2 linked regions of the Homo sapiens genome follow. The protein of the gene in region 1 interacts with the protein of each later gene in a biochemical or structural test. Each region holds a gene or a part of one and is shown in the gene's direction. Other genes may lie near its edges.

Region 1 (3,004 bases):
TTTATCACTAACCTATACTGTGCAACAAGCCAGATAAGGCTTCACAACCTGGGATTCCATTTAGAGAAAAAAAGTAGAGAATGGAAACTCCCCAGGGATGAGAATAGGAAGGATACTTTGAACAATGATAGAGAAAGTGTATTCTTGGTGGCAGTGATTGTGTCATTGAAAAGGCTGATTAGGTCTGTGGTGAGCTAACAGAAGAGAGAGTGAACAAGAGGCTAAACAGTAGGATGAGAAACAAGACACCATATAATTCAGGGATGAGAGAGAAAGAAATAATGTGGCTAGAAAGAAGAACTTCAGTTTGATATCTCAGAGGCAGAGAAGGTTTGAGTGGTGGTTAATAAACTGTACAGAGAGAGAATGAAGGAGACATAGAAAGAATGAAGGTGGAGATCTCTGGGGCTGTGAGAGAGCCAGTGACCACTGAATCCCCAGCACCTAGTGTAGTAACTGAGAGCTAGTGAATAAATGTATTAGTGGGGTCATCACCAAAGATGGATTAGATATACACTCAATGACCAAGGACTCAAAGAAGAGGAGAGAAAAACTTGGGGAGATGCTGACATCTCTGCAGGTAGCATGAAGTAACCAGAAAACAAGTCGTAATGAGAAATGGAAAGATCTAGGATAAGGAAGCACCATGATATGCAAACGAAAAAAAAGCACTGAGTAGAAGTAGCAGAAAAATACTAAGCTTCATGGGGACAGAAAGTTTATTCTCCAAGTCCCTCTTTCCCCTTAGCTTTGCCTGGATGTATTACTTGATGTTGAATTAGTCAAAGTTGAAGGCACTTTTTAGGGTCTTCAGCAGAAAGCAGAATCCTAGAATATCCTACAAATACAAGACAACTTGAGAACTATAAAAGAAAGAAAAGGCCTTGTTCCCATAGCCCACAAGAGGGCTGAGCTCAGCGATACACTCTGTGTGGCTCAGGAGCTTCTGGCAGAGCACAGAGCCATCAGAGAGGGGGCCCAGAGAGCAGAGAGAGGCTCTGCTGACATGGCCAGCCCAGCGCCTCATCCCATCCATAACCCTGCTGCCCTGCAATGACTCTCTTCCCAGCAATAAAATCTGGGTCACAGGAGTTGGAGCTCTAGCCATCACTTGTCTCTAATAAATAACTCCCATTGATTTTCCAGCTCAGGGCTCACCACTCCTTCACCGTAAGCGCCAGGAGGCAGACCTGGAAAATCACTCACATATTATTGGTGCTCTTCCTCCCCCATCCTCACCCAAGGTGCATATAAACCCTGAATAACCTGAAGTCTAAGGGCATGAATATCAGACGCTAGGGGGACAGCCACTGTGTTGTCTGCTACCCTCATCCTGGTCACTGCTTCTGCTATAACAGCCCTAGGCCAGGAATATGAACAAGCCGCTGCTTTGGATCTCTGTCCTCACCAGCCTCCTGGAAGCCTTTGCTCACACAGGTAAGGAGGTGAAGGAATGGTCAAGAATCATAAAGTGAGAAAATAGGTTGAAGCTGAGATATCTTTTCCCTGCATTTATACTGAAGGTCATTATCTTTCTTTCTTTATCCCGCAGACCTCAGTGGGAAGGTGTTTGTATTTCCTAGAGAATCTGTTACTGATCATGTAAACTTGATCACACCGCTGGAGAAGCCTCTACAGAACTTTACCTTGTGTTTTCGAGCCTATAGTGATCTCTCTCGTGCCTACAGCCTCTTCTCCTACAATACCCAAGGCAGGGATAATGAGCTACTAGTTTATAAAGAAAGAGTTGGAGAGTATAGTCTATACATTGGAAGACACAAAGTTACATCCAAAGTTATCGAAAAGTTCCCGGCTCCAGTGCACATCTGTGTGAGCTGGGAGTCCTCATCAGGTATTGCTGAATTTTGGATCAATGGGACACCTTTGGTGAAAAAGGGTCTGCGACAGGGTTACTTTGTAGAAGCTCAGCCCAAGATTGTCCTGGGGCAGGAACAGGATTCCTATGGGGGCAAGTTTGATAGGAGCCAGTCCTTTGTGGGAGAGATTGGGGATTTGTACATGTGGGACTCTGTGCTGCCCCCAGAAAATATCCTGTCTGCCTATCAGGGTACCCCTCTCCCTGCCAATATCCTGGACTGGCAGGCTCTGAACTATGAAATCAGAGGATATGTCATCATCAAACCCTTGGTGTGGGTCTGAGGTCTTGACTCAACGAGAGCACTTGAAAATGAAATGACTGTCTAAGAGATCTGGTCAAAGCAACTGGATACTAGATCTTACATCTGCAGCTCTTTCTTCTTTGAATTTCCTATCTGTATGTCTGCCTAATTAAAAAAATATATATTGTATTATGCTACCTGCATTTGTTTAGTGCTTGTCATAGTCCCATATCTTTATCTTATGTCTACTACTTATCTATCTACTAATTGGTGTTTCATTGGTAATTGGTGTTTCATTATCCTGAAAACTCCAATTGCCAAGTACGGGGAGGAAAACCTGTAAGTAACTAGAAAGATATATCACAAAGCCAGAGCACTCAATGAGCACAACAGTGGCAATACTTAAAAGCTACTAACAATCATTTTAATGACGATTCAAAATATGTGTGGAATTGTAATCACAATTCTCCTATTTGTTTTTCCAGCTACAAATCGATCAAAAAGGGGTCTGAGGTTGCATCAGGTAGACAACTATAATGATATAAGTAAGCAATAGTTGAGAACCTGACAGCAAGTAATAAGACAGGAAGAATAAAACTAGAAGAAGTCAGAATGAAAACCAAAAAAGTATGAGACTGGGATCATTTTGTATGAAGACAAACATAACTTTATGTCTCAAAAACCTCAGTAGGACTGTACAATGCTTGATTTTCATAATGTTCTCTTGATGTCATCAAAAAATATTATACTCTGAATATTGCTCACATGAATATGCTGTCTAAAATTCTTCCATGGATTCACACTTCTTACAGGACATGATTTAAACCTCTAAATATGACATTGCCCTCTATAACCTGGTCCCAGTTACTCTCTCTGAAATGTAC
Region 2 (3,831 bases), on another chromosome or scaffold:
TCATTATAGATTAGTTTTGCCTGTTCTGGAACAACATACAAATGGAATCATACAGTATACTTTTGAGTCAGGCCTTCTCTTTCCTTCAACATTTGACTGTGAGATTCATTCATGTTGTTATATTTAATAGTAGTTTATTCTTTTTTATTGCTATACACTATTTTATTGTATAACTTTTTATTGTATGACTTCAATTTGCTTATCTATTTTCCTGTTGGTGGACATTTAGATTTTTTTCATTTTTTGGCTATCATGAATGAAACTGCTATGAGAGTTCTTGGGGCATATCTTTAGGTATATTTCTCATACCTTGGAGTAGACTTCTTGATTCATAGGGGTATATGCTTAACTTTAGTGGATACTGATGATTTTCCAAAGTGATTATTTCTACCAGCAATGGGTGAGGATTCCAATTATTTTTAATTCTTGACAGCATTTTGGTATTGTTAGGGATGTGTGGGTGTGTGGGTGTTGTTGATGTTGTTCACTCTTGACTGTACTTGGTATTGTGTGTGTGTGCGTCTGTGTGTGTGTGTGTGTATAGGTGTTGGTGTTGTTTGATTTTGGGGACAGTCTTTCTTTTTTTGAGAGACAGGGTCTCACTGTGTTGTCCAGGCTGAAGTGCAATGACTATTCACAGACACAGCCATTAGTATACTACAGCCTTGAACTCCAGGGCTCGGGTGATCCTCCTGCCTCAGCCTCCTGAATGACCAGGACTACAGGCACATGCCACTGCACCTGGCTTAGTCATTCTGGTGGATCTGTAGTCCCATTTTCTCTTTAGTACACAAAAATCAATTAATGAAATCTTTGGGTCTAATGAACCCATTGATTCATTGATTTCCACTGTCTTTAACGCTGATGTGGTATTTAGAAGTAGTTTGCTTTGTGTGAGTTCAGTTTAGACTTTAGCCATTAAGTTCAGTGATACACTGCATAACGACATTTCCGTCAGTGATGGACCACATATACAACTGTGGTCCCATAACATGATAATGGAGCTGAATAATTCCTTTTGCCTAGTGACATCTTGATGATCCTGACCCTGTGTAGGCCTAGGCTAATGTGTGTGTTGTCTCTTAGTTTATAACAAAAAAGTTTAAAAAGTTAAAAAAAATAAATTTTTTAAAAAATAGAAAAATGTTTGTAGAATACAGTATAAAGAAAATATTTTTGTGCTGCTGTACAATGTTTATGTTTTAAGATATCTTATTACAAAAGACTCAAAAAGTTTAAAAAATTAAAAAGTTTATAAAGTAAAAGTTACAGTAAGCTAAGGTTGTTATTGAAGGAAGAACATTTTTAAATAAATGTAGTGTAGCCTAAGTATGCAGTGTTAAAAGTTTACAGTGGTGTGCAGTAATGTCCTACGCCTTCACATTCATTGACTACTCACTCACTCACTCACCCTGAGGAACTTCAAATCCTGCAAGCTCCATTCATAAGTGCCCTGTGCAAGTATACTGTTTTTTATCTTTTATATCATATTTTTCCTGTCCCTTTTCTATGTTTAGATTCACAAATACTTAACCATCATGTTAAAATTGCCTTCAGTATTCAGTGCAGTCATATGTTGTAAATGTTTATAGCCTAGATGTGTAGTAGGCTATACCATCTAGGTTTATATAAGTACACTCTATGATGTTTATACAAGAATTAAGTCGTCAGTGACACATTTCTCAGACTGTATCCCCATGGTGAACTAACATGTGACAGTAAATACATGTGGCTTTCACTAGCCTTCTTTAGATCACAAGCATAATCTGTTCTCTTATGATTTTTGATGATCACGCTCTTCAGAGTAGTGTTTTTTTGGGAATAAGGGGAAATAGGAAGAGCTGTTTACATTTCCTGTAGCCAGAGTGACCATGAATCCTGGTTTGACCAAGGCAGTTCTTAATTCAGCAAGATTATTACTAACATTCCCTTTCGCTTTCAAAAGTGTGGTGCTTACATTACCCAATAGGGGGACCAAGCAAATCAGTCTTTTAGAAAATGGAATTTGGACAAGGTAAAAAAAAGAAAGAAAAGAAAAAAGCCATGTATGACTATTTGAAATGAGGAAATAAAAGCATTAGATTATTTACAAACATACTGGACTCCAGTATCAGTTTTGACCCAGTGAACCCCATTGTTGTGGAAATAAGTTTTATATGGGACCAACCTTTGTTATTTTAAGTGTTGACCCTGGGTCTTTTAACCTTTTAGAGCTATAGGCCCTATCATTAAAAGGAGAGTGTTAAAATACATAACTAAAGTCTTTTTCAACGCTAAAATACAGTCTTAAGCAGCAGTGAGAAAGTATAAGAAGGTTTTCTTTCTTAGAATATCTTTTTAGCATTCATTGATCCCACCTACTGAGTTCTTTTCTGGTATTACTTGCTGTTTTTCTTCATACCAAAATAAATGTATCTCTTAACTGGGGTTGGTGGGAAGGGGAAGTATAAGAATGTATAGTAGGTATTTTTCAGGTGCTAATTTACCTGGGTTTTTTTCTTTTCTTTTCTTTTTAAGTATACATGCAGTTACTTAACCATTTAAACACATAACCTACTTTTAAGGTGATTTTAGTGGTGATTTAAATCGTAGGTTGTGGCCGGGTGCAGTGGCTCACACCTGTAATCCCAGCACTTTGGGAGGCTGAGGAGGGTGGATCACGAGGTGAGGAGTTCGAGAAAAGCCTGACAAACATAGTGAAACCCCATCTCTACTAAAAATACCAAAATTAGCTGGGTGTGATGGCACAAGCCTGTAATCCCAGCTACTTGGGAGGCTGAGGCAGGAGAATTGCTTGAACCCAGGAGGCGGAGGTTGCAGTGAGCCGAGACCATGCCATTGCACTCCAGCCTGGGTGACAGAGCAAGACTCCGTCTCAAAAAATACATACATACATACATACATAAATAGTAGGTTGTAAGTAATTTATAGCCTAGAGAAAAGTGTTTTCTTGGGCAGAATAATACTCTTATTTTTCACAGGAGTGGAATTTTTTTGTGTCAAATTGTAAAATTTCAGTGAAATGTAGAGGAATTCCACCTAAAAGACTTCATTGTAATTAAAATGCCTGCCTCAAATTACAGATTTTTCACTTCTTTTTAATAGGAAACTGAGAAGAAAAGAAGAACAGAGGAAGCATATAAAAATGCAATGACAGAACTTAAGAAAAAATCCCACTTTGGAGGACCAGATTATGAAGTATGAATTTATATTTTGATCTTAGAGAAACACATAGATCATGTCTATCACAAAAGTGATTTTTTAATAATACTCTTGTAACCTTTAAATATTCTAAATATATAATTTTTTCCTCAGTGTTTATGTTAATTCAGTGTATATTTCATGATATATAAATGCCAGGCATGCTCAAATATATATTTCTTATTGCCTACAAAGTTTAGGCTTCAAAAGGCTTAGTATTAGGCCTGTTCACTTGATAGGACAAATTTTTATCTCCCCTGTAAAGATGATCATTTTTAATGTTATCTACTTTTTTTTTTTTTTTAACATAAAAGCAAACTATAAAGGAAAAATCTGAGTACTTTGCAGACAAAAAGATTTTAGTCTGTACTATACTGTGAGATCTTTTTTTTTTTTTTGAGACCGAGTCTCGCTGTGTCACCCAGGCTGGAGTGCAGTGGCGCGATCTCGGCTCACTGCAAGCTCCGCCTCCCGGGTTCACGCCATTCTCCTGCCTCAGCTGCCCTAGTAGCTGGGACTACAGGCACCCGCCACCACGCCTGGCTAATTTTTTTGTATTTTTAGTAGAGACGGGGTTTCACCATGTTAGCCAGGATGGTCTCGATCTCCTGACCTCGTGATCCGCCCGCC

What was found.
Region 2: the proteins of APCS (region 1) and CERT1 interact in a biophysical measurement, tested with the Homo sapiens proteins (one study listed by IntAct).

Annotation. Positions count from the first base shown.
Region 1 is NC_000001.11:159,586,549-159,589,552, forward strand, and holds APCS (serum amyloid P-component precursor), read left to right. Parts: upstream 1-1,277; 5' UTR 1,278-1,373; coding exon 1,374-1,437; intron 1,438-1,552; coding exon 1,553-2,160; 3' UTR 2,161-2,317; downstream 2,318-3,004. UniProt on the Homo sapiens protein: Can interact with DNA and histones and may scavenge nuclear material released from damaged circulating cells. May also function as a calcium-dependent lectin.
Region 2 is NC_000005.10:75,410,378-75,414,208, reverse strand, and holds part of CERT1 (ceramide transfer protein), read left to right. Parts: intron 1-3,105; coding exon 3,106-3,198; intron 3,199-3,831. UniProt on the Homo sapiens protein: Shelters ceramides and diacylglycerol lipids inside its START domain and mediates the intracellular trafficking of ceramides and diacylglycerol lipids in a non-vesicular manner.